Homo sapiens: one gene and its partners. The protein of the gene in region 4 purifies or fractionates together with the protein of the main gene of each other region. This does not show direct contact. Each region holds a gene or a part of one and is shown on either strand. Other genes may lie near its edges. The genes, in order: DNM3, MTMR1, LMBR1, EFNB2, DENND6A, DPH1 and DIP2A.

Region 1 (3,500 bases), on a different chromosome or scaffold from region 4:
TGAGCAATGAAGATGAGCGATGAATGCATTAGTAAAACTGGTTACTTGCCTACTGATGTCCACACATGCGACTACTCATGATTTACTGCAACGGTTATCAAATATGTTGCTTTCGCATAATTCATTAGTGATTAATTGCCATGCCAGACACTTCGTTTAGTCTAACAGGGAGGATTCTAGTGGGCGGATTATAGTGGGACGAGTTGGTGATGGGGGTGGTCTCCGGCTAGAAAGAGAAAAAGAGAAAGGTAAAGAAACAAGTAGAATATCTAGCAGAACATTGTTCCAAGGACACTGAGAAAGAGCCATTACACACATGCTCATGCACATACAGGCCAGCAGAAGTGGTTATGATCTGTAATGATTTTAACATTGTCACCTTTCATTTATCTAGTAGTTTTAATGAAAATTACGTCTTTTTTCATATGCAAATCTTTCTCAAAACTGAAGTCATTCCTTCCAATACTAATAAGAAATATGAAACTATTTGAAAGCCATCTGAAACGTACTGCACATATCTTAGCCAATAGAATATAATAATTACATAGAATGAACTCAGGAACTAATAAGGTATACTGTTTCAGACAATGATGGCTTTTGAATTTTTATTTCTCACATATAATTTTCCTTTTTCTTTCAGGATATTATTATCACTTCTCATTGCCTTTTTGACTTTCTCCAATTTGTTCTATATTATGCTTGTAATTTACAGAGCACTAAAAATCAGAAAAGCAAGTCTTTAGAGTTCTCTGTAGCAAGTGTAAATAGGCTCAGTGTTGAGTGCCTGTTTAAATTGCAGGAGCTCTAGTTCCTATTTTGGGTCTTAAAGACTTTAGTATTGGTATTAGTAGTATTACTCACTTTCTAGTTGGTAATGATGTTTCTGGTAGCTGAGTTTACTAAGCAAACGTACTTTAGATAATGAAATATTACTGTATTTGAGAGTCTCAACATTACCAAGTAATATTATTTATTACTTATTTATTCCTCAAGCTTCTACATTTATTTCCTAAATATATTAATAAGTTTTTTTAGTGTATTTGTGTACTTGACTTCATATATGGTATCTTGGGTAGTCATTTTTTTACCCCCCCAAATTTGACAAAGTCTACAAATTGAAATGTTTCTTTTTGATAAAACTCTGCAACTGATTTTTTCAGAAAGACTCCTTCTGGAATTATAGTCATAAATTTTTCTTCTGTATTAGAAACTCTATATTGATCAAATTGAATGTCCTTTCTCAGGTATGAAGAAGTGAAGTTAGAAAAATTTAAGAAAACTATTATGAAAAATAGTTTTGAAAAATAGTTTTGAAAAAAATAGTTGTTGAAAAATCATGGAACTATAAAATTAAATTACACGATCAAGGAAAAATCAAAGCAGGAGAGATATTGTTGATTAATGGTGAAAATATTAACTATTTAGGCACAAACTCATAGATATTAGTAGAATTCCTTTTACCTCATGCACTTGAAAAATGTGTAAGAGGCTTCAAAGGAAATCTTTCTTTGGGGAGGTACAAAGCACTGGAATTACAGGTGTGAGCCATGGTACCCAGCCTTATTTTCATTTAAAATGGCCATATATGTTTAACTTATGTCCTGAATCTTGAATCTGCATAATTTTCTTCTTTGATAGGAAGTTTCTGAAGGGCGCAGGTCACACCCACTTAACTTGTTTCATACAGTGTTTAGCATGGTGTTACATGCAATTACATTCTCAATGTCATTTTGGTCATCTTCTGAGACTACTAACTAATCATTTAAGACTTACTTCAGTGAAGCCTTCCCTGACCTGCCTTCCCCTCTCCTGATACAGTTGTTTGTATAGCATCTCAACAAATCTCTATTATTAGTCATCACACTGAACTCTAATTAGGCTTATATGTTATCTTCACTGATGAGAAATGAGCTGTCTCTTAATCATCTTCATGTAACTGTGGTATCTAGCTCACTGCTTGTCATTCAGTCACTGAATGTTTGATAACTGAATGAATGAAAGTTCCTCCTAGAATCAAGAAATAACTAATGAATGCTTGTGATATTCATTGGTCTTATAAATACAAGGATATTTGTGAGTAAATCATGGCCATGGCAAAAAAAAAAAAGTAGCTAAAGTGACATGTAGGATTGAGATCCTTGGTGACTCTAAAGTATCTAACTGCTCAGTTCTTTAGTAGATATTTGGAATAAATACCAAATAATAAGCCCCCTGCCCTCAGGGAGTTTGTCAAATAATCATGTAACCTATGGAAATGTATTCTTAGCAATTAACCAGTTGGCTGGTGGGAGGAGAGAACTGGCCAGAATTTGAGCTTTAAGGAGGGAAATTCTACCAGAAGTTTTGATAATGGAATTAATTAGGTGATTTCATTAAATAAAAAGTTGATTTTAGACTACAAATTCAGTGAGAAGTAGGATACAGCATGGCATGATGGATTGGAAATCGTTTCATGAATATGTGATAGCTTGGATCAAGGCTTGTAGCCAAGAGAGAAAGGAATGAAACTGACTTCTCTTGATCCTTTTGTTCTTGGCTTAACTGTTATTCCTCAGTCCTTCTGGACCATCCCATAGTTTTCCTGACTTCCTCTGCCTTCCCCTATGACTTCATGTTTGTGTCTCTCGTAGCACGTAACCCTACTTGTGATTATGTATTTATTTACTAGATTATTACCAGTGTCCCCCAAATAGATTCAAAATTCCTTGAGAAAAGAAACCACATATTTTGCATTTATTATGTGTATTCAGCATTTGGTACAATGTGATTAGAAAGCAGTGGTTAAGTATTTGTTGAATAATGGACAAATGAAGAAATGACTGAAAAGTGCCTAAACAAGATATTTAGCCAGGCTAGAGTTTAGGCTAGATCAAGGTGAGTAGGTCTAGCGAGGCCAAGGATGCTACACTTTTAAGGCATTTATCAGAAGCTTATATTTGAGATACTATGTTTACATAGAAAGAGTCCTGGATCAGAAGTTAGAAAATGTGGATTCTAGCTCCAGTTGCCAAATTGTACAATCAGACTAGATGATCTATGTCAAGACTTCCAGTTATATATTGCATAGATTATTTATTGAGCATCTAATATGTGGACTGCTTCATGCTACATGACTTTAAAGAGCTCAGCATCTATTCAGAATGGAAGATGAGTGGAATAAAACAAATATGAAAGTAGCTTTATTATAGTACTTCATTTTAAGTGGAAAAGTGGGGCAAAATTTTGTAATTCGGAGTCTGAGAATACACTCTGGGAAGTCTGAAAATACAATAATGTGGTCAAAGTGATGGCAAACATGATTGTAACTGCTGCATATAAAACTTGGAAGTAGGAATGTAGGTCTATAATGAGTGAAATTGGAACTTAAATGATGGCGATTGAAGGGAAAAATTCAATGGTGTGGATAGAGAATAGAAAGACTTAAGTACTCTTATGGCACAGTAAATTCTCATTAATATCTGCTTTAATCCTTGGACCATGTGGCTGGGACAAGAGCACAA
Region 2 (3,500 bases), on a different chromosome or scaffold from region 4:
TGGAACCTCAGAATGTGACCTTATTTAGAAATAGGATCTTTGCAGATGTATTAATTATGATGAAGCCATCTTGGAGTAGGGTTGGCCCTAAATCCAGTGCCTAGTGTCCGTATAAGAAAGCCATGTAGAGACACAGGCACACACAGAAGGAAGATGGCGATGTGGCAATAGAGGCAGAGATTTAAATGATGCAGCTAGAAGCTGAGGAGTGCCAAGGACTTCCAGCAACCACCAGAAGCTAAGAGAGAGACATGGAACAGATTCTTCCCTATACCCTCCTAAAGGAACCAACTCTGCCAGCACCCTGATCTCGGACTTTCAGCCTCCAGAACTGTGAGAGAATAAATTTTATGTTGTTTTAAGTCCCCCAGTTTGTGATAGCACCCTTAGGAAGCTAATAAAACCTCCTTACATTCCTGGGATAAATCCCACCCGTTCATGGTATGTGATCAGTCCCCTTCATATACTCTTGGATTGGGTTTGCTAGTATTTTGTTGAGGATATTTGCATGTATTTTCATAAGGGATGTTAATCTGTGGTTTTCTCTTCTTGTGATGTCTTTGTCTAGCTTTGGTATCAGGATACAGCTAGCCTCATGGAATGAACTAGGAAGTATGCCCTCCTCTTCTAGTTTTTGGATGACCCATCATCTCTTACCTCACCTACAGCAGGAACCTTGAAATTGGACTTCTGCCTCACACCCTGCAATCTCATCTCCACATTATGACCAGAGTGATCTTCTTTTTTAAAAAAAACTTATTGTTACTATTTCAATTGATAAATGAATTGTATATATTTATGGTGTACAACGTGGTATTTTGATTGTGTACACATTGTGGAATGGCTAAATCAAGCTAATTAACACACCATTTTTTGTGGTGAGAACACTTAAAATCTACTCTCAGCAGTTTTCAGATACAGACTACATTGTTATTGACTGTAGTCACCATGTTGTACAGAGTGATCTTCTCAGTGGACAACTCTGTGCACATCCCTCAGAGCCGCAAGGCAGTGATATCCAGGTTCCTGAACAGGGTCTCCAAAGCCCTCCACCCACGGGTCCTTTCCTTCCTGTCTCGCCACATCTTCCAGGTCCATGTCTCAGCTATGTGAGGTTCTTTTCAGTTCCTTAAGCACATCCCACTGTTAGCTCAGAGATATGTTGCAGTCCTAACTCCAAGTACCTATAAATGTGGCCTTATTTCACAATAGGGTCTTTGTAAATGTAATTAAGTTAGGATGTGGTCATATTGAATTGGGGGGTGGGGGTTAAGCCAAATGACTGTGTCCTTAGAAGAAGAGGAGAAGAGACAGACACAGACAAAGGAAAGAAGGTCAGGTGGAAATGGAGGCAGAGATCAGAATGATGTGTGTATAAGCCAAGAACACCTGGGACTATCGGAACCTGGGGCAGCCAAGGAAGGATCCTCCCCTAGAGTGTTCGGAGGAAGCATGGCACTGCCGATACCTTGAATTCAGACTTCCAGCCTCCAGAACTAGGAGAGAATAAACTTCTGTTGTTTTAAGCCACTGAGTTTGTGGTTCTTTTTCCAGCAGCCCTAGGAAACTCATACAAGGATATAGGAGGTTTATTTGCAGATGAGTTTGTTGCTTCTTTAGTGGTCTGTATCTCATAGCACTAGAAAGAATAGAAAAGTTAATTCCAGATAATGTGATGTATTTGTTTTGTTTTTCGTAGACAAAGGGTGGAGGATATGAAAGTGAAAGTGCTTACCCAAATGCAGAACTTGTGTTCTTGGAGATCCACAACATTCATGTCATGCGAGAGTCACTACGCAAATTAAAAGAGATTGTGTACCCTTCGATCGATGAGGCGCGGTGGCTCTCCAATGTGGATGGGACGCATTGGCTGGAATATATAAGGGTAAAGAGATCCAGCACTTTATATGCTTTCCAGTTAAGACTTCTTTGTGCCTGTGCCATAAATACGTATATCTCCAAGTGCCTCTTGGCTGTGTGCATGAACTTTCTTATTCAATAGTTTCCATGGACAGCATCAGACTGGGGTCTTTGTGGAGGGCTTTTGTGACATAGTGAAAAGGGAAAAATGCTTGCCTTAGGTCAGGCTTTTAAAGAACTTCGTGGCCCTTTAATAAGGAACCATATTTACTCCTGTAGTTTTTCTCCAGTATAAGATTTTTTCTTTTCTTTTTATTTTTTTAATGTGATGCTAATATTTCCTAGTGATTCTCAGCTGATTGCCTGCCATTCTTGCTTGGTTTATTGACCAGAACTTCCAAAGCTCTCCCCAGAATTATTTTACATTGTTTTACATTTAATTGAAATTCAATGTAGCCTGGTCTAATGTGCCTTTTTTTTCTGAAGATGCTGCTTGCTGGGGCAGTAAGAATTGCTGATAAAATAGAATCTGGGAAAACATCTGTGGTGGTGCATTGCAGCGACGGTTGGGACCGAACAGCCCAGCTCACATCTCTGGCTATGCTAATGTTGGACAGTTACTACAGGACCATTAAAGGATTTGAAACTCTCGTAGAAAAGGAGTGGATAAGCTTTGGACACAGGTTTGCACTGGTAAGTTCAGACAGTGAGGTTTATGCTGGACTGTTTTGCGGTATCATATGGATGTAAACGTCATGTGTGACACACGTAAGCGCATATATACACACACACGTGCAGGCTTTCTCTTCTGTATCATATCAGACCTGAATTGCCATAATAAAATACATGGACCTCAGGCATTGTATGTTCCTCATAGGGCGTTTTTATTTTAGTGTATTTATGCCTTTTTAAAAAATTGAGGTAAAATTCATATAACATAGAATTAACCATTTAAAATGCTCAATTCGGTGTCCTTTAGTAAATTCACAGTATTATGTAACCATCACCTCTAGTTTGAAAACATACTCTGGCCAGGCGCGGTGGCTCAGGCCTGTAATCCCAGCTCTTTGGGAGGCCCAGACAGGCAGATCACCTGAGGTCAGGAGTTCGAGACCAGCCTGGCCAACATGGTGAAACCCCGTCTCTACTAAAAATACAAAAATTAGCCAGATGTGTTAGCGGGCGCCTGTAGTCCCAGCTACTGAGTAGGCTGAGGCAGGATAATTGCTTGAACCTGGGAGGCAGAGGTTGCAGTGAGCCGAGGTCATGCCACTGCACTCCAGCCTGGGCAACAGAGCAAAACTCCGTCTCAAAAAACAAAACAAAACAAAAACCGTACTCTTCACCTCAAAAGGAAATGCTGTACACATTAAACAGTCATTCCTCACTTCCCCCAGCCCCTGACAACCACTAATATTTCTGTCTTCATATACATTTGCCTTTTCTAGGTACTTCATATAAGTGGAATCCTACAGTATTTGTCCTCCCATGACTGAGTTACTTCACTAAGCATAATATTTTCAAGGTTCATCCATGTTGTGACAAATATCAAATTTTCATGATTTTTTATAGCTGAATAGTATTCCCTTGTGTGTATATACCACATGTTGTTTATCTGCTCATCTGCTGATGGATGCTTG
Region 3 (3,500 bases), on a different chromosome or scaffold from region 4:
GTGTTTAATGTAGCAAACTGGTTTTAAAACTCTGATTTTTGTCTGGGTATCGTAGTTCGTGCCTGTAATCTCACCATGTTAGGAAGCTGAGCGGGGAGGATCGTTTGAGCCCAGGAGTTCAAGACCAGCCTGGGCAACATAGCAAGAACCTGTCTCCACAAAAAATAAATAAAAAAATTAGCCAGGCATGGTGGCATGTATCTGTAGTCCCAGCTACTTGGGTGGTTGAGATGGGAGGATCACTTGAGCCTAGGAGGTTGCAGTGAGCTGCGGCTATACCATTGTGCTCTAGCCTGGGTGACAGAGCAAGGCCCTATCTGTAGTTTTTTTAGTTTATGGAGGAAAATTAAAAGTAATTTATGTTTTTTAAAAAGAAATTATGTATAAAACAGATTATAGCATTATGGAAGGAAAATGTTAATTTGGAGAAAACTTTGTTTTATTTTGTTTTTCCTTTTAATAGAGAGGCGAAAAAAGGCTTCAGCATGGGAAAGAAATTTGGTGTATCCCGCTGTTATGGTTCTCCTTCTTATTGAGACAGTAAGAATTTATTTGCCTAGTTAAATAAAAGCAAATTATATTTTATTTACTTCAGCATTTGAGTATGGCAGCTCCCTCAGCTAAATGGTTTTTCATAAACTAGTTTTCTATCAACAGGATTAAAATCCATCTATGCCTTTATTTATGAAAATCCAATAAAGCAAAAATGGAAATTAATGGCAATTTAAAAAAAATTCTGAAGATTATCTGTTTCTTCATGAAAGCAGGAAATTCAGTCTTTGTTTTCATTGAAAATTAAGAAAACAAGGTGTTGCAGATAACCTGCTTTAAATTCTGTGATAAAATATGAAAATTACATTATGAAGTTAGTTCTGATAATATTTTACCACTTTTTTAAGTCTGTGGAGTTGTGTGTTTCCAATTGGTGAGATCACTTAGTAAAAGGATCTATATACTACCAGCTTTTGTCACAAGCTTTGAAATGACAATAACTTGCAGAATCTTTTAGAATTTCTTCAGTTCTTGTTTGTAGTCTGATTACTTTAGTTTTATATATAGCGTTTTGGTCTTGACTGCTTTCCCTCTATTCTGAAACGTGTATTTGGTTACCTAGATTTTAATATTTTGTATTGGTGAAAAATCTTGAGAGCTGACAGTTTGCTGTTTGTCTTGTAGTCCATCTCGGTCCTCTTGGTGGCTTGTAATATTCTTTGCCTATTGGTTGATGAAACAGCAATGCCAAAAGGAACAAGGGTAAAGTAAAATCCTTTAAAATGTCTTTCTTTTGCAAAAGTATTCTATGTCTATACCCTGAGTATTTCAAGTAAGCAAATGAAAACATTCACCTTTGTGCATGTATATACTTCAAGTTGTATGAATTTCTTTATGCAAAGAGCCTTTAAAATATAAACTGTGATTTTTGTTTCTAATTTTTTACTTTGGATTGACAGGGCCTTTTTTCAAGTGTTGGAATTTCCTTTTAGATTTCTTATCAGAGTTTATCTTGATTTTACTGAAATTCATTTAGCTATATGAAATTCCTTTAGCCATAGTCTTGATTCAGATCCCCCCACCTGAGTCTTTCCAGGACCTTGTGCCATCTGTTATTGCCATTGTTGTATTCACTTACAGCCTCTTCTCCATGAGTACAAGCCCACCATCATGCTCCAGGTGCCTCATCCTACAGACAGACAAGAAACTACCCTTTGCCATGTACAGTCTTATCTTTTTCTTTAGTTTTATACCCAAACCCACTGATAGAACAGGAAGTCGCTTACTATACTGACTTCCTAGTCACTTTTAACCCATTTTACTATACCAACAAAACAAGTCCCAAGCCCTATAGTATATTTTTGTACCCATCCCCCTTAGTGCTTAGTGGAGAATGACTTGTACGTCATAGGAGATCCCTGTATAATTGTGTAAAAAAATTAGATACTCTTAATCCTTCCTACATGGCTTCTCTTGAGATAGCATAATTCCAAAGTATTATCTCTGTTGATCAATAAGCTTCTGTAGGGGAGAAGAAGTAATACCTTTTTCTAACCTATTGGAAGGTTCATGGCTGAGATGCCTATAACAAAAGATTAATAAGAGAAAAGCTGACAAACTTATTTAAGATAAGTTTTACATATCACAGGGGTCTTCAGAAATAAAGAAGACCAAAGAAACAGAAAAAGCTGTGTACTTTTATGCTCTGGTTTGTTGAAGAGTGGACAGTAGTGGGAAGTATGATTGGAAGACAGGGGTGTGATCTAATGATTATAAACCGGGGGGATTTAGCAAGGCCTGTTCATATTCTTCTCGGTGTCCTCGTGTCTCCGGAGATAAACATGTGCTTCTCCTCTGGGTGGGTTGCGGGGGGCACCCTTGGATGGGGGTCTTATGGCCTGCTTCGCAGGAGAAGGAGACAGATCAGTGTGTGACCTTCCTAGGTTTTCTCAAATACCAGGTCCCAAATTTTGGAGTAGTGTGTCTTGAACCCCATCACTTTCTACCAGCATCATTTATTTCTTCTTCAAAAGATTGTCAAAAAGTTATTTTTTATTGGGCTGACTGTAGATTCTTAATTATCCCTGGTGTTTCTATTAGATGTAATCTGTGCTGACTAGTAAAACATTCAGATAGTTTCTTTTATTAGTAATCTTTGAAAATACTTCAGTAGGGAATGATTTTTTCAGATCTAATTATAAAAATAGTAACTTTTTTGTGTTTTTTTTTTAAGTTCTAGGTAAAGATAGTTTTTGAGATAGGGATAATTGTTTAGGAAAAAATTTATAGCATTACTTTTTTAAAAATCTATGTTAACAGTTACATCCTTTGTAACTCTGAATTCCCAAGGAAAATTTGGGCAAAGGAAACTTTCAGGTATGGGAACAGGATATGCACATTTACTCTCTTTCTACTCTTAGCTTAATTTTGACATACTTGAATTGTGTAATCTTTGTATATTGTGTAAGCATTCAGATAGCTATGTATCCTATTCTTATTTTTCTATTGTGTTTTTAAAAACTCTTTCCCAAAACTATTCAGGATTTTTTTCCTCAAGTGGCAAGTTGCCCCATTTTATAACAGTAAGCATAATCATGTCATCTTGACAAGTAACTTAAATTACATTTGAGATAAGTAATTTTTCTTGAGCTTATTAAAATTGTTAACATGGTGCCTGAATTTGTTGATGAAATCAGTCTAATGTCATGTCTTGTTGGCCTTTGAAAGTCTAGATGTTATTTCAAAGTAGTAAACATTCATAATTTCAACTGTCTTATTTTATGAAACAGCTGTTTTAGGGAAACCAATATAATGGTGTCATCAAATTCTGAAAAGTGTCTTTCTCCCACCCCAGGGGCCTGGAATAGGAAATGCCTCTCTTTCTACGTTTGGTTTTGTGGGAGCTGCGCTTGAAATCATTTTGATTTTGTATCCTTTCTTTAACTGAACGTTCAGCCTATCCACAAATTTTATACCAAGTTTTCTGGGGCAGTAGTTATTTACTAAGA
Region 4 (3,500 bases):
TGAGGTCGAGAACATGGGACGCAGGGGTCGGTGTGGCTTTGGGGATCTCTGTGTTTGAGGCCATATTTTCAGAAGGCGTAAGTCATATAAATCATTTAATGAGCCTTTTAATTCATTTTACAAACACGCCAGGCCTTCCTTGATGTAAAGTTTTCATTCAGTGTGTACTGTCCAACTTTGTTAAAAATCTATAATGGTCAGTGACGGCAATCCGGGGGATGCTTATCAAAGCGGAAGTGTGGTGGGGAGGCTCACATTTCAATATGCATATTAGATACGCTTGTAAAAAGTAAATCGTGACAAAGCTCACTATTCCTGATGATTCCAAAAGCATTAATTCACCTTTCAGAACACACTGTGGCAAAACGTGAGGCAAGAATTTGATCCTCGGCTCTTCAAAAGTAATTGTTTCTAGAGCTCATTAAAACAATGATTGTTCCTTTAATTAAATCAATACAAAAGGCCCCAATCCTTGAGTGGTTTAGCAGCTTTTACTTTTTAAGCGTATATATAAACAGCCATAGCGCACAGTCACTTTAAGTGAAGAAATTATGGCTTCTCAGTGGACAGAGTGCAGTTGAGCTGAGAGCCTGAACTACAGCTCTCCTGGCCATGTTTTCACTACGTGTAGTCTGCATTATTGACTCTGCCTCCCGGGAACTCTCACACTTCCTAAAGCACCATGGCAGCAAACAACAGTACTGTGAGTGTAACAACTCAAGTAACCTATGTTGTGCCAGACATTATGAGTGACAGAAAAGTGGAGACCACTGATCATTAGGAATTTATAGTCTAGCTCCCTGAGGGCAGGCAAGTCCCACATGTGACTAATTCAGTATTAAACACCCAAGGGGCTGACACAGAGTAGATGCTCAATAAATAATGTATTAATTGAACAAAAAATAGGAATGAACAAATAGAAGCTAACATTTATACAAATTGAAGTCAAATTAAATACCACTATTTGCAGATCACAGACATGATAGGAATTCTGAAGACAGAACCACTGAGTCGGTACAGGACACACTGAGGAGGAGAGACTGGATTTCTGAAGATGCCCTCCCAGGCACACTGGCATTTCTGGAGAGCAAGGAGCCCTGCAGATGCAGTTTCTGACCCTTCCTCTCTGGAAAAAGTTCTAAGTATTGGCAGTCTTCTACAATCCCTCTCTACTTAAAATGCAAGGCAATCAGCCACCTCCAGAACCACTAATAATACAAACACAGCTGCTTTTGAGCACTTGCTTTTGGCTCAGCACTGTCCAAAGCCCCATACATCCCATGTTCTTCATTTCAGCATGACGCATGGACCTAACACACAAAACAGGTGAAGACACACTGGTGCCCAATGAGCATGACAGGAAAAGCCCCCTTTCTCTGCACACATTTCAGTTTTGACTGCAGCACATTCAATTATAACTCCAGCATTGGGAAACACATTTTTTTCCCCCAAATCAAGCTGTTCATAGATAAGCCATGAAGTTAAGGGAAATCAAGACACGCACATGTGAGCGTCACATGGAGAGCCAGGGAAAGTCTAGCTCCACACCAAGCACACATCAGTGGTGCCTGAAGGGAAGAGGCTTCTTCCGAGGCAGTCATCTGAGACCACGGCTCAGATGTGCAACCCTTCCCCAGGAGGCCAGGAACCAAAAGGTGAGGAAGAAACAGACCAGCTACATGGCATTTGTGTTTTACATTTAATATTACATATGGACTCCAGACAATTATGCAAATAGCAGAATATATATGAAAAGAAAATGGGGTGAGTTTCCTAATAGTATCATTTTTTAATGGAAAACAATTGAGTTCCATATGTTATAATCAAGTCAGTAAACAGAGTTCCTATTTTGGAAGTGATGGGGTTTATATTTGAATTCTGTTGCTTTGATTGCTTAGACACATTAACAAATCAAACTACACAGCACATCTATCTATGCCCTAAATATTTTGTAATATTCAACAATACACTTCTCCTATGCTGACTTTGAAAGTGTTAAAAAGAATTATGATGATGATAACTGGCTAAGTTTAAATTACTAAACTGACTTTCCATTATGGATGCCAAATACAGATTTCTTTCTGTGTGTTCAGATAATGTTCATCTTGTAACCAAAAACAGCAGAGGGAAACCGCCACAGTTACAACCCATACCACATGGGGGGAGGCTGTTCTTGTTAAACTTCGCCCAGACAGAGAGTGGTTAGAGAGAGGTGTCATTTAATAAAGTCTGCTGATTTTAAGCCCAAATAAAAAGCAAAGACCACCAAGAGTGATTCATGTCCCACACAGGAGAGAGAACTGAGCCAGACCAGTTCCATCCCTGAGCGAAGTCAGAGCAGGCTCTCTACTATCTTCCTGGGAGGGGAAGGCTGCCTCTTCCTTTCCATCAAGACAATCTCCAGGTTCAGGACTGCTTCCCAGGCCATGGCGTGTGGCTTGGTGCATTCTCACTGGAGGGCCTGCCTGGGAACCATGGGAAGCTACTCTAAGAGTGAGGCATACTGAGTGGAAATAGGCAACTCCAGTGGCTTTTCCCAGTGAATCAGTCCTAAGCAAGACAATAGATGCCCTGCCTTTGAATCAAATATAGACACAATATAATGTGGAAAAAACTGGAAACACTCAAGTAGGGCTTCCAAACTTAACATGACTATGGTGAAAAGATCTGATATTGGAATCTGTTTTTACTCTTGGATTACCTATTGAACTTAAGCCAAGCTTTTTCAAGTTTTTCACCAATCTAGACTCTAATACTTCTACATGGATACTTTGGCTAAGTCTAATCATCTCAATTAGACATAAATATTTAGTAATCTAAACTGGATCTCTAATAATTTAGACATTTCAACTTCACAGTCATAATTGTAAAAACTTTAAAAAATAGTCCTTATGTTGCCAGGCGTGGTGGCTCACGCCTATAATCCCAGCACTTTGGGAGGCTGAGGCGGGTGGATCACGAGGTCAGGAGTTCAAGACCAGCCTGGCCAAGATGGTAAAACCCCGTCTCTATTAAAAATACAACACTTAGCTGGGCATGGTGGCGGGCGCCTGTAGTCCTAGTTACTCGGAGGCTGAGACAGAGAATTGCTTGAATCCGAGAGGCGGAGGTTGCAGTGAGCCGAGATCGCACTACTGCACTCCAGCCTGGGTGACAGAGCAAGACTCCGTCTCCAAAAAATAAAAAAATTAGTCATTATGCAACACAATATTCTTTAATATTAATAGACTAGAACACAGCATAATTAATGAAGACAACAGAAAGTTTTAACCTACACTACGAGCACATGCTTGTTTAAAACACGGGCCTAATACACTGAAAACATAAACCAGCCACTTAGAGTTCAGAGGTCACCTCATGTGATTTTCATTCACAGACCAGACCATGGCACGTTGGGATGTCAAGTCTGGACTTTTCTGCTGACCTGTATTGCATTATCGGGTCTCACAGGGTGCCTGGGAAATGGACGGAGGCAGTGGTCGCCTGATCTATTTCTGCAC
Region 5 (3,500 bases), on a different chromosome or scaffold from region 4:
CACAGAGACACAAAGTGAACACATTGTTGGAAAAATGATGCTGATAGACTTGCTTAATGTAGGCTTGCCACAAACCTGTAATTTGTAGAAACTGGTAACTGCAAAGCACAATAAAATGATGCACAATAAAACAAGGTATGCCTATATTAATAAAAGGAGAAGGAAGAATGGTATTGGAAGGCAACAAGCATTTACTGCCTTACCTGAGAGCAGTTATAATCTTATGTAATCAAAGATTTATTTTGAAAGATTTCTAAGCTTGGGTTTTATGATATAAACTTTAGTAACTTTGAGCTGTTTGAGAGCCAAGGGTATATGTGCCTGAAAATTCTACACCATTATGTAACTTTGAAATAAAGGATTATGTTCTGTTTTACCTGGGATATGGAAATATCTGTTAATGCTTATTGAAAATGAGGCTAAACATTTATATCTTGGTAAATTTAGGCTATTTTTGTATTATTGGGATTCTATTTATTTTGTTCTTCTTATCATAAGAATCATCTGGGGCATTTGTTACATATGAGGATTCTGGGGCTCACCCATCTGCTTAATCAGAATCAGTTCCAGAGGATCATTATGTGTAGGCATGTTTGGAGTATGTTTTTTAATTTTCTCTTTATATAAACTTTTCTGTTTTTCTTGTAAACCAGCTGTTGTCAAAATGTGGTCTGAGGACTTCTGGGCATCTCTGAGACCGTTTCAGGGGATTTATAGGATGTTTTCAAACTATGTATGGCTTTTCTTCATGTTCTTCAACCAGAACAACATATTGCAATAGAATGAACATAGAATGATTCTGCCAAGAGCAAACATTAAAGAAAAACAAATTTTTTTTTAAAAAAAAAGAATGAATGCTGAAGCAGATATGAGAATCTAGTTATTTCTGTTAAATCAGACATTAAAGATATTTGCAAACATGTAAACAATGCCATCTTAGTAAGGTTTTTGTTTTGTTTAGGAATACAGGTTGTGTGTTCCTAATCTAAACATTCAAAATCTGAGACGCTCCAAAACCTGAAACTTTCTGAGTACTGACATGATGCTTTTTAAAGGAAATGCTCATTGGAGCATTTTGGATTTCAGGTTTTTGGATTTGGGATGTCCAACTGAGTAAGTATAATTCAAATATTCTAGAATCTGAAAAGATCTGAGATCCAAAACACTTCTGATCCCACCAAGCATTTTGGATAAGGAATACTCAACCTGAATATAGTTACTTTTCATAAAAATTGAATATGTTAATGAGTAATAGGTTATTATTTTAAAATAAATAAACAATTTTTTTTAATGATACTTTTAGTTTCTACAGTGGTGAATGTTGATAGATATAACTCATATAAACAAGAATTCTAGGCTGGACGTGGTGGCTCACGCCTGTAATCCCAGCACTTTGGGAGGCAGAGGCAGGCAGATCTGCTGAGGTCAGGAGTTCGAGACTAGCTTGGCCAACGTGGTGAAACCCATCTCTACTAAAAATACAAAAAAAAAAAAAAATTAGCCAGGCATGGTGGCGCATACCTGTAATCCCAGCTACTCTGGAGGCTGAGGCAGGAGGATCACTTGAACCAGGGAGGCGGAGGTTGCAGTGAGCCGAGACTGTGCCATTGCACTCCAGGTGTGTGCCACCATGCCTGATTAAATTGTTTTATTTTTGTGTTGCCCAGTGTGATCTTGAACTCCTGGACTCAAGGGAACCTCCTGCCTCCACCTCCCAAAGTGTTGAGATCCCAGGCATGAGCCATTGTACCCAGCCTCATTTATTCCTTTCCGTCACTAATTATTAAGTAATATTTGGACTTTATTTATTTATTTGAGACAGGGTCATGCTGTGTCACCAGGCTACAGTGCACTGCAGCCTGGACCTCCCAGGCTCAAGCAATTCTCTCACCTCAGCCTGTCAAGTAGCTGGACTACAGGTGTGTACCAACATGCCTGGCTACTTTTTTGTTTTTTTGTAGAAACAGGGTTTTGCTGTGTTGCCCAGACTGGTCTTGAACTCCTGGCCTCAAGTGATCTGCCTGCCTCAGCCTCCCACAGTCCACCTGCCTTAGCCTTCCAAAGTGCTGGGATTATAGGCATGAGCCACCATGCCTGGCTTTAGACTCTTTTCTTGAAACAGAGTCTCGCTTTGTCACCCAGGCTAGAGTGCAGTGGCACGATCTCAGCTCACCGCAACCTCTGATTCCCAAGTTCCAGCGATTCTCCTGCCTCAGCCTCCTAAGTAGCTGGGATTACAGGCACGTGCCACCGCACCCAGCTAATTTTTGTATTTTTAGTAGAGACGACGGGGTTTCACCATGTTGGTCAGGCCGGTCTCAAACTCCTGACCTCGTGATCTGCCCACCTTGGCCTCCCAAGGTGCTGGGATTACAGGCATGGGCCACCGTGCCTGGCCCATAAACTCTTTTTTTTTTTTTTTTTTTGAGACGGAGTCTCACTCTGTCACCCAGGCTGGAGTGCAGTGGCACAATCTTGGCTCGCTGCAACCTCCACCTTCTGGGTTCAAGCAATTCTCTGCCTCAGCCTCCTGAGTAGCTGGGATTACAGGTGCCCACCACCACACCGGGCTAATTTTTGTATTTTTAGTAGAGATGGGGTTTCACCATCTTGGCTAGACTGGTCTTGAACTCCTGACCTTGTGATCCACCCGCTGCGGCCTCCCAAAGTGCTGAAATTACAGGCATGAGCTAAACACTTTTTAAATAAGGGAACTGGAACTTAAAGAGGTAACTTGCCCCATATCACTTGCTTAATAAGCCAGGATTTGAACCCTGGTCCTTTTGATTCTGAAGCCTAATTTCCCCCCACTATACTGTGTTGTTTACTATTTAGGGAAACTGAAGCAAAGAAGATGTGAAATGCTAGCGGTAGCTTGAACTAAAATTCTTAAATTCTTGGTAGTAATAGTTTACCTCATTTCTCAAAGTGTTCCTGTTTACATGCTAATACTCAGTGTAATAATAGTACCCAGGGCTATTTTCTGAGTTGTATGAACTGCTTTTAGCATTTTTGTGATCCTTTAGTTGGCAAAATGCTTTACCGTCCTGTGGAATGCACAGTAGATACTTGCTTCTGTTTGGACAAAAGACCAGCGTGACCTATGTCAATGACATAAAGTTGGATTTCCTGAAGGTAGGGTTTCTAACTGATAATAGTTTATAGCCATGGGCAGATGAAGTGAGATGATAATAGTTCTCATTTCTAGTGTATTGTGAGGATTAATTGATACAATACAGTGCCTGGCACAAGGAAAACACTTGATAAAGTTAGCAATTGTAATTATTTATTGAGTTTTTCTGAAATAATGAAATAATTACTCTTTTGGTCTAGTTTATTTGAATTCTATCTGTATTACTCATTTAGTGAATTCCTACCTAACCTTAAGCGTCCTTTGTAAGTAATACAGGATCAGTATGAGGGTAGCATCATTAAATTTTTGTTGGTACCTATTATAATAGGAGCACTGGGACCATTTGCATAGGCCATAATAAGTACCT
Region 6 (3,500 bases), on a different chromosome or scaffold from region 4:
AGGGCAAGGGCAGTGGCTGGGGGAAAGGTGAGGCGGAGAGAGTCCAGGAGGTGTGTAGTGTCTATCCGGATGTCCACAAAGACGTACAGCACCCGGAAGTCTTGGGCCGAGGTGTCCATGGGAACTGTGGGAGGGAGGAGTTCAGGGGCTGTTTGGGAAGGCAGGAGCAGCAGAGGGCCCGGCCAGGCTCAGGTCTCTGAGCAGCCAGGCGCAGTGGCTTCAGCCTGGGGGTAAAAGGACAGGGTAGGAGAAGAGGGGGGTCACAGATCCCCTAGAAGCTCCTTCTCAATCAGACTTCTCTGTCACCCGGCCGGGGCCCAGCCTGCTCTACAACCAACAGCCTTTCAAACACCTGCATCTGGGACAGAGCACCGTTGCCAAGGCAACCAAATCCAAAGGAAAGATCTACCTGCAGAGCGGGAAGGCAGAGGCCACCCCAGAAACCAGGAGGGACCTTGTGTCTCCAAGCAGGACAAGAAGGCACTGCCATGGGGAAGATGAATGTGCAGCCTGCCTCCCTGCCAGCCCCGCCACCGTCCAGGTGTCCTGGCCCCACCATACTCAGGCAACTGTGGCCGTAGTGCACCAAGAAGTCAGCTCCCAGGGCCCTCGCTGTGAAGTCATCCACACAGCAAGCCCCGTAGGTCACGTCACCCATCACCATCACTTCGGCCTCCGTGAACCTGCGGGCACAGGGGCGGGGAACGGTGGGACAGGGACACAGGGACTGAGGTAGGAGAGACCCAACCCTGGGAGGGTGTCTCAGGGCCCAGCTCCTCTCTCCCTACCTCTCCCAGTTCCTCGGGATGGCAGCTGCCACTTCTGCCAACAAAGATTAGGAGGGGCACAGCTGCCGCCTGCCCCAGCCTGGCAGCCGCTCCTGGAACTGTTGCTGCGTGAGGACCCTCATTCCTCTACCCAGGCTCAGGCTGCAGGAGGGACCCCAACCCTCACTCCGGCACACGTGGGGTCAAAACACAGACGCCCCATGCCCTGACTCACCCACCCAGAGCCGTGAGCACGCACACACACCCAAAGGTCCTCACTCCCGCGCTGAGTGCTGTGGTGGGCATGGGCGTGGCTGTATGAATACACACAGCCTCCCTCTTGCCGGGACCCCCACTCCCTCCCCACCACAGGCAGGGCCCCCACCCCCTCCCCACCACAGGCAGGGCCCCCTCACCCGGACCCCCACTACCTCCCCACCACAGGCAGGGCCCTCTCGTCCGGACCCCCACTACCTCCCCACCGCAGGCAGGGCCCTTGGTGCCCAGGATGGGGGGACCCAGGCACAGCTCCCCCATAGCACATGGCACCACCTACACGCCTCCTGCATCAGGAAGAGGAGGCTCTGGCCAGAACACTGCCGTGGGAACTGCTGCCAGGCCTGAATCACTGGGGGAGGGGGTGGGTGGGGAAGACCTTGTACCCCTGAACTCACCCTAGGAATGGAGGAGAACCCCCTCTTCCTTGAAAGAGACTCACACTTGGGGCGTGGAGCCTGGCTCAGTGACTGGGGTCCCCCCATCCTTCCCCTGGGGGTGTGGCAGTGGAAGAGTTGAGCTCCTGCTAGTCACCCCCTCCTCCACCCCCTTCCCCAAATCAGGCTGTGCCCAGAAGCAGATTATTCACCTCCTTAGAATGCAGCCCAGGCGTCTAAGTCAGCCACAGCACTTAATTTTTTATAGATTAAAATGTATGCAAATTGGCCTGAGCCCCAGAGAGCATCCCCAAGGGGCAAGACGGTGGGAGCAGGGAAGTGAGTCTGTGGCAACAAGATGGGGCAGCAGGGGAGGGAGGGCAGCAGCAGGGGAGGGGGATGGGGCAGCAGCAGGGGAGGGGGATGGGGCAGCAGGGGAGTGGGGGAGGAGGGGAGGGGGCAGCAGGGGAGGGGGGAGCAGGGGAGGGGGAAGGGGGAGTAGGGGAGGGGAATGGGGCAGCAGGGGAGGGGATGGGGAAACTGGGGAGGGGGATGGGGAGCAGGGGAGGGGAGGGGGAGCAGGGGAGGGGGAAGGGGAGGGGAGAGAGGGGGAGCAGGGGAGGGGAAGGGGGGAGAAGAGAGGTTTGGGGGAGCAGGGGAGGGAGGGTGGCAGCAGGGGAGGGGGATGGGGCAGCAGGGGATGGGGGAGCAGGGGAGGGGGATGGGGGAGAAGGGGAGGGGGAGGGAGGAGCAGGGGAGGGCGATGGGGCAGCAGGGGAGTGGGAGGTTCCCAGCATGAGATGACCTCCCCTTTCTTCGTTCCCCTCCCCTGTTCCTGTGCTGGTTCCAGATGGCTGAGCTCTCACCCTCCCCACCAAGGATGGCTCATTGTATTGCAGAAACTTAGAGTGACAGGGGTAGGATGTAGAGGAACTGAATACCTTCTCCCAGGCACCTCCCACTCCAAACCCATCCTTGCCCTACTTCCCCAAATGTGCCCGAGGAACAGGTGCCCCCCACCGCCCCCGACCGGCAGACCTCCCACTGATCACTCAGCGCATTTCAGGGGCAGCTTGGAGAATTCTTAGGGTCCTCCCCAGGTCCTACCACCTGCTCTGGGTCTAGCTTTGAAGACACTGGGATTGATTTCTTTCTCTGTCCCAAATGTTTAGGGGAGGGGGGATTTGCAGGGACAAGCAGGGCTCTCAGCAAGCTGGGAGATTTGTTTTGGGTTTTCCCTGAGTGTGTGTATGGTTGTGGGAGGGAAAGGGGGAAGGTGGAGGTTCAGAAGGAAAAAATGCCCGCCACCAGGGCTTTACCCACCCGGGTAATGAGCATAGGGGGTGGGGGAAGCCTGGCTCACCCTCCTCTCCAGTGCCCCAAGCCTCACCTTTCCAAGATATCCACAATGGTACAGGCAAAGAGGAGGAGGCCTTCCGGCATTTGCAAGGCCACTGCAAGACGAGCAGAGACATGAGAGGTGGAGGGCTAGGAAGGGGCTGCAAGGGGGACACTGTCCCATCTGGGCCAGGCAACCTCTCCACCCCAACCCCAGCTCAATGATCACAGGCTCACCCTTCTTGGCCTGGGCTTGTTGGATCCTCCAGATGGTCTTGGGGATCTCAAAGTTGTAGTTGGAAGGCAGGACCCGGATTGCTGCCTGCAGCTGAGGGTTCTTCAGGATCTCAGGGGGGATCTGATTGGCCACGCGGCCCCGAGGGGCCCGACCTAGAATGGATATAAGGCCTGAGTTGGTGTCTGTCTTTGGCTGAAGCCAGATTGAGATGGAATAGGGATCCCTTTTCAGGGCCTGCCGGTGCCCCCGCTCAAGCATAGAAATAAAAATTTTGAGTCATCTCAAGAAAAATCCCAGGCATCTTAGCTAGCCCTACAACCAGCAATTAGGGAATTAAATAACTTGCTAAACAAGAAGATAATAAACAACAGTCACCCAAGTCAGAGTCACGAGATGCCTGGTTCCCTATAGAAACTACACATAACACCTTGACATATATCCCTAAGTTGTTTTTCAGAAACCAGGACACCCACCCCCCCACCAGGTGAAAAATGCCAACTAATT
Region 7 (3,500 bases), on a different chromosome or scaffold from region 4:
AGTAGTTTTGTTCAATTCTAGTATTACAATGTAAGAAAACTACTGAGTCCATTTTTACAGTTTTTAAAATTGTCACAGTGTACCCCATAAATATATACAATTAGTACTTATCAATTAAATAATATTAATTTAAAGATATCTCAAGTTAAGTATCTGACATTTGAAGTAAATCAGGTGCTGACTATACTTTATCAACAGATCATCTATAACCATAAAGATTCTACTTATATATTTATATCCATGACAGCTGAGGTCAAAACTACAGTCATAGATAAAGTAATAGAAAACTAAAAGTGTTTTCCTCTTTTTGAATGAAAAATGCCCTGACCCTCAGTATGTCACAGAGTAAGCCAGCCCCCCAGGGCAGGCCTGTGAACCCAGCACTGTGTATAAATCAATCAGTGGGATATAGGTTCCATGTTCCATAAAATCAACATCCATGTGCATTTACTGAAAACAACCCTGATGGGGTTGTCTGGACTCTGCTAAGAGACACCGTGTGCCCTCTTGGCCAGCACAACCACAGAGACCCTGTAAGCATGCTAAAGACAGTGCATCTCCCTACCTGGCATGACCCGGATTAATGGGCAAAGGCACTACCCAGGGGTGGTTTTGACAGGTGCAGTGACAGTCACATGATTAGGTACGTCAGGTATCTGTGTGAGGCTGGAGGGGCCACCGCCCCACCCCCGAGAGCCCTTACCTTCTGAGTACCCGCACGCCTGGGTCAGAGCCCGGCACTGTGCCAGCAGGGATGCGTGGGACACTGTGACCCCCACCGTACTGCCTTCTTTGCTGGTTTTATACTGAAAGATTTCAAGGAAAAAAACATGATGTGGTATTTCTAGAGGTGACAACAGACAGAATGGAAACTGGTAGAATCTTCAAAAGAAGAAGTGGTCAGTGTCTCTCCTCTAACCATCGGCCTCTAACCAGCAGCCCAGGTACATGGCAAAACCCTGGCCGCTGAGGGGATGCTTCAGTGGAAGTTGTGGCTCCTCTTGGGCAGGTGCCCGAGGGTAATGGTGCGCCATGGGCTCCCTCATAACTGTCTGCATCCCCAGGGAGCCAGTTAGGAGAGAATTAGATGAGAGAGAAACCTGGAAGGATCTGAGCAAGGATTTATATGACACTCTGTATTTCCAGGGCAGAGATAAAACAAGAACTCTTAGGCCGAAACTTAACAAAAAAGAATAGCAACTTACATTCTTATGAAAAGCAAGACTTAAGCCTGTGGGACATGTTTTTACATTCTCTAAGTTAGGAACAGTCATTACCTCAATGTAGGCAGTCCCAGTCCCTGTGTCCTGGGCCAGAGGGTGCCAGTCCTTTGGGGGCTTGGCTAGATGCTTCCCATCAATCACTAGCCAGGAGAGCGGGGGCCAACCTGTGACACACAGACAGGACACAGAACAGCAAGCAGTCAGAGGCATCTGCTCCCCACACTCGAAGCCTGCGCCTCCAACATGCAGCACTAGCTACTGAGCGAATAAGGAGTGCAAGTTTTAGTCTCATTTCATTTTATATAATTTAAAAAGGTACATCCGGCCAGTGGCTACCACATTAGACAGTACAGGTCGAGACATGAAGCCAGATGAAAACCGAGATTCACCAAGGACTCGAACAAGGGATCACTTTTGCTGAAGACCCAGACACCTCTGTCATGTTTAATTTCTGGAACACCATGCATTTAACACAGACCACAGTCAGAACACTGACTCCCCTTCCCTTGGGAGGCCTCACCTTTGAAAGCTGCCACCTCTCCTGTCTGTGCCTTGGGGAGGCCTTTCTGACAAGCGTCTGTGGTCAGGGCCAAGAAGACTCCACAGCTGCCCAGCAGAAACCCAACCTGCTGGCTGCCTGCATCCTGCAGAAAGCAGAGTGACCGTGTGGGGTGGGGTGCTCACAGCAGCCACAGCCCCAGACCCTTGGTGCTCCAGGCCATGCACAGAGAACAGATCTTTTTTTCATCCCTCATAAAACTTCCAGAATAATTCAGTCCCATTATTGATATATATGATCTTTTCACGGAAATAGTTCATGAAAATGTGACAACTATGTTTAAATTTAAAAGATAATTTTGGTTTGTATTTGTGTTGAAATATAAAGTTTAATGGGCTAATTTCTCAAAGTTTATTCTTACAAATGACATTTAGAAGCATTTTTAATAAACTCCAAAGTTAATGGCATTGAAATTTCTATTGAATCATGTTTGAAATTTACAAATTAATCTAGAGAGGCCTGGTCACCAACGATATTAAATTATTTCCACACAGAAACACATTTCCTTGTAGCCAAGTCTTCTGTGTCCCTCAGCAGTATTCTGTCATTTTCTTCATATAAATTTGACAAATCTCTAGTTTTACTCCTAAGAACCACTGCATTCAAATACCTGCCCATCACATATTATGCTTTGAGATACACTAGTTTGATTTGCAAATTTTACTTTTGGGATTCTTGAATATTTCTGGATAATGCTCCTGTTAACAACTGCCTGAATTCTGGGACAGGATGACAGAAAACTGATTTTCTCAAATTCATGCCTTGTCTATTTTTTTTCAGTAATCATATTATTGATAGTTATATCAAAAATGTTACAGATACCTAGATCAGCAAGACCCCACATTAATAATTTATCAGCAACAGAAACTGCCTACGGTCATATAAGTGAACAGAAATGCAAGATAATTTCCATCTCGTTTATTCAAAACTGCCACTGAGAAGTGAGCTATATCACTGTAATGATATATTTATCCCTAAGAAATAATAATTATTTTCTATAAACATATGGTTTTGAGGAAAAGTTGAACAAAATCTTATTGAATCATAATTCTATTCATTAGAGGAAAAAATGGCTATCATTTCTGTTGGGAAATTCATGTAGATGATAGAACAGCTCCACCTAATAAGAGTGTGGTGTGGGAGCATCACCAGCAAAACGGTTCTCAGTGCCCCTCTCATTAACAAGAAGAGAGGCAGGCAAAACGGCATCTGATTTCTCTTGAGTCCTGGCCAGCCTGTTGACTACTAGCTTTCTCTCCTCTGTCAAAACAGCTGCTTGCTGCCTGCCCACATGAGTGAAAAGGAAGTAAGATACTGCTGGTATCAAGTTCAGAAGCGAACCACACGGGACCTGAGCCATGGGTTTGCTACCTTTCTTGTTAATGGCACTTCTATGGGGACAGGAACCAGCTCTGCCAGGAGACACCCATAAAATGCAACCATGAACATCACAGGGTCACTATTCGGAAACACGAGCGCCACCTACAACAGGACAAAGAAATGAATATTCCAAATTTCCAATTTTTACAATATCTAGTTAAATTAAAAGCTAGTTATAAATAAAATTTTTGTAAGCCCCAAATATTGTAATAATTGTGCTTGAAACCATAAGGGACAAGTCCAAATAGTATTTAACTGAGTAGAGACAGTTGACTCAGGGCCTTTGAGAACACGCAACAATGAATAACCAATAAGTGCTGACTTTGTAAGACAAAATT

What was found.
Region 1: the proteins of EFNB2 (region 4) and DNM3 purify together in Homo sapiens (affinity purification with mass spectrometry; 3 studies listed by BioGRID and IntAct, with this or other methods). This does not show direct contact.
Region 2: the proteins of EFNB2 (region 4) and MTMR1 purify together in Homo sapiens (affinity purification with mass spectrometry; 3 studies listed by BioGRID and IntAct, with this or other methods). This does not show direct contact.
Region 3: the proteins of EFNB2 (region 4) and LMBR1 purify together in Homo sapiens (affinity purification with mass spectrometry; 3 studies listed by BioGRID and IntAct, with this or other methods). This does not show direct contact.
Region 5: the proteins of EFNB2 (region 4) and DENND6A purify together in Homo sapiens (affinity purification with mass spectrometry; 3 studies listed by BioGRID and IntAct, with this or other methods). This does not show direct contact.
Region 6: the proteins of EFNB2 (region 4) and DPH1 purify together in Homo sapiens (affinity purification with mass spectrometry; 3 studies listed by BioGRID and IntAct, with this or other methods). This does not show direct contact.
Region 7: the proteins of EFNB2 (region 4) and DIP2A purify together in Homo sapiens (affinity purification with mass spectrometry; 3 studies listed by BioGRID and IntAct, with this or other methods). This does not show direct contact.

The regions. Positions count from the first base shown.
Region 1 is NC_000001.11:172,404,498-172,407,997, reverse strand, and holds part of DNM3 (dynamin-3), read right to left. Parts: exon of another isoform or gene 227-3,500; coding exon 157-226; 3' UTR 1-156. UniProt on the Homo sapiens protein: Microtubule-associated force-producing protein involved in producing microtubule bundles and able to bind and hydrolyze GTP. Most probably involved in vesicular trafficking processes, in particular endocytosis.
Region 2 is NC_000023.11:150,734,896-150,738,395, forward strand, and holds part of MTMR1 (phosphatidylinositol-3-phosphate phosphatase MTMR1), read left to right. Parts: intron 1-568; coding exon of another isoform or gene 569-604; exon of another isoform or gene 605-806; intron 807-1,699; coding exon 1,700-1,885; intron 1,886-2,346; coding exon 2,347-2,553; intron 2,554-3,500. UniProt on the Homo sapiens protein: Lipid phosphatase that specifically dephosphorylates the D-3 position of phosphatidylinositol 3-phosphate, generating phosphatidylinositol. Could also dephosphorylate phosphatidylinositol 3,5-bisphosphate to produce phosphatidylinositol 5-phosphate.
Region 3 is NC_000007.14:156,725,684-156,729,183, reverse strand, and holds part of LMBR1 (limb region 1 protein homolog), read left to right. Parts: intron 1-463; coding exon 464-540; intron 541-1,176; coding exon 1,177-1,254; intron 1,255-3,346; coding exon 3,347-3,420; intron 3,421-3,500. UniProt on the Homo sapiens protein: Putative membrane receptor.
Region 4 is NC_000013.11:106,515,163-106,518,662, forward strand, and holds part of EFNB2 (ephrin-B2 isoform 1 precursor), read right to left. Parts: intron 1-3,500. UniProt on the Homo sapiens protein: Cell surface transmembrane ligand for Eph receptors, a family of receptor tyrosine kinases which are crucial for migration, repulsion and adhesion during neuronal, vascular and epithelial development.
Region 5 is NC_000003.12:57,683,078-57,686,577, reverse strand, and holds part of DENND6A (protein DENND6A), read left to right. Parts: intron 1-3,500.
Region 6 is NC_000017.11:2,033,153-2,036,652, reverse strand, and holds part of DPH1 (2-(3-amino-3-carboxypropyl)histidine synthase subunit 1), read right to left. Parts: intron 3,149-3,500; coding exon 2,996-3,148; intron 2,875-2,995; coding exon 2,811-2,874; intron 684-2,810; coding exon 562-683; intron 125-561; coding exon 1-124. UniProt on the Homo sapiens protein: Catalyzes the first step of diphthamide biosynthesis, a post-translational modification of histidine which occurs in elongation factor 2.
Region 7 is NC_000021.9:46,531,891-46,535,390, reverse strand, and holds part of DIP2A (disco-interacting protein 2 homolog A), read right to left. Parts: intron 3,265-3,500; coding exon 3,154-3,264; intron 1,868-3,153; coding exon 1,744-1,867; intron 1,388-1,743; coding exon 1,278-1,387; intron 807-1,277; coding exon 704-806; intron 1-703. UniProt on the Homo sapiens protein: Catalyzes the de novo synthesis of acetyl-CoA in vitro. Promotes acetylation of CTTN, possibly by providing the acetyl donor, ensuring correct dendritic spine morphology and synaptic transmission.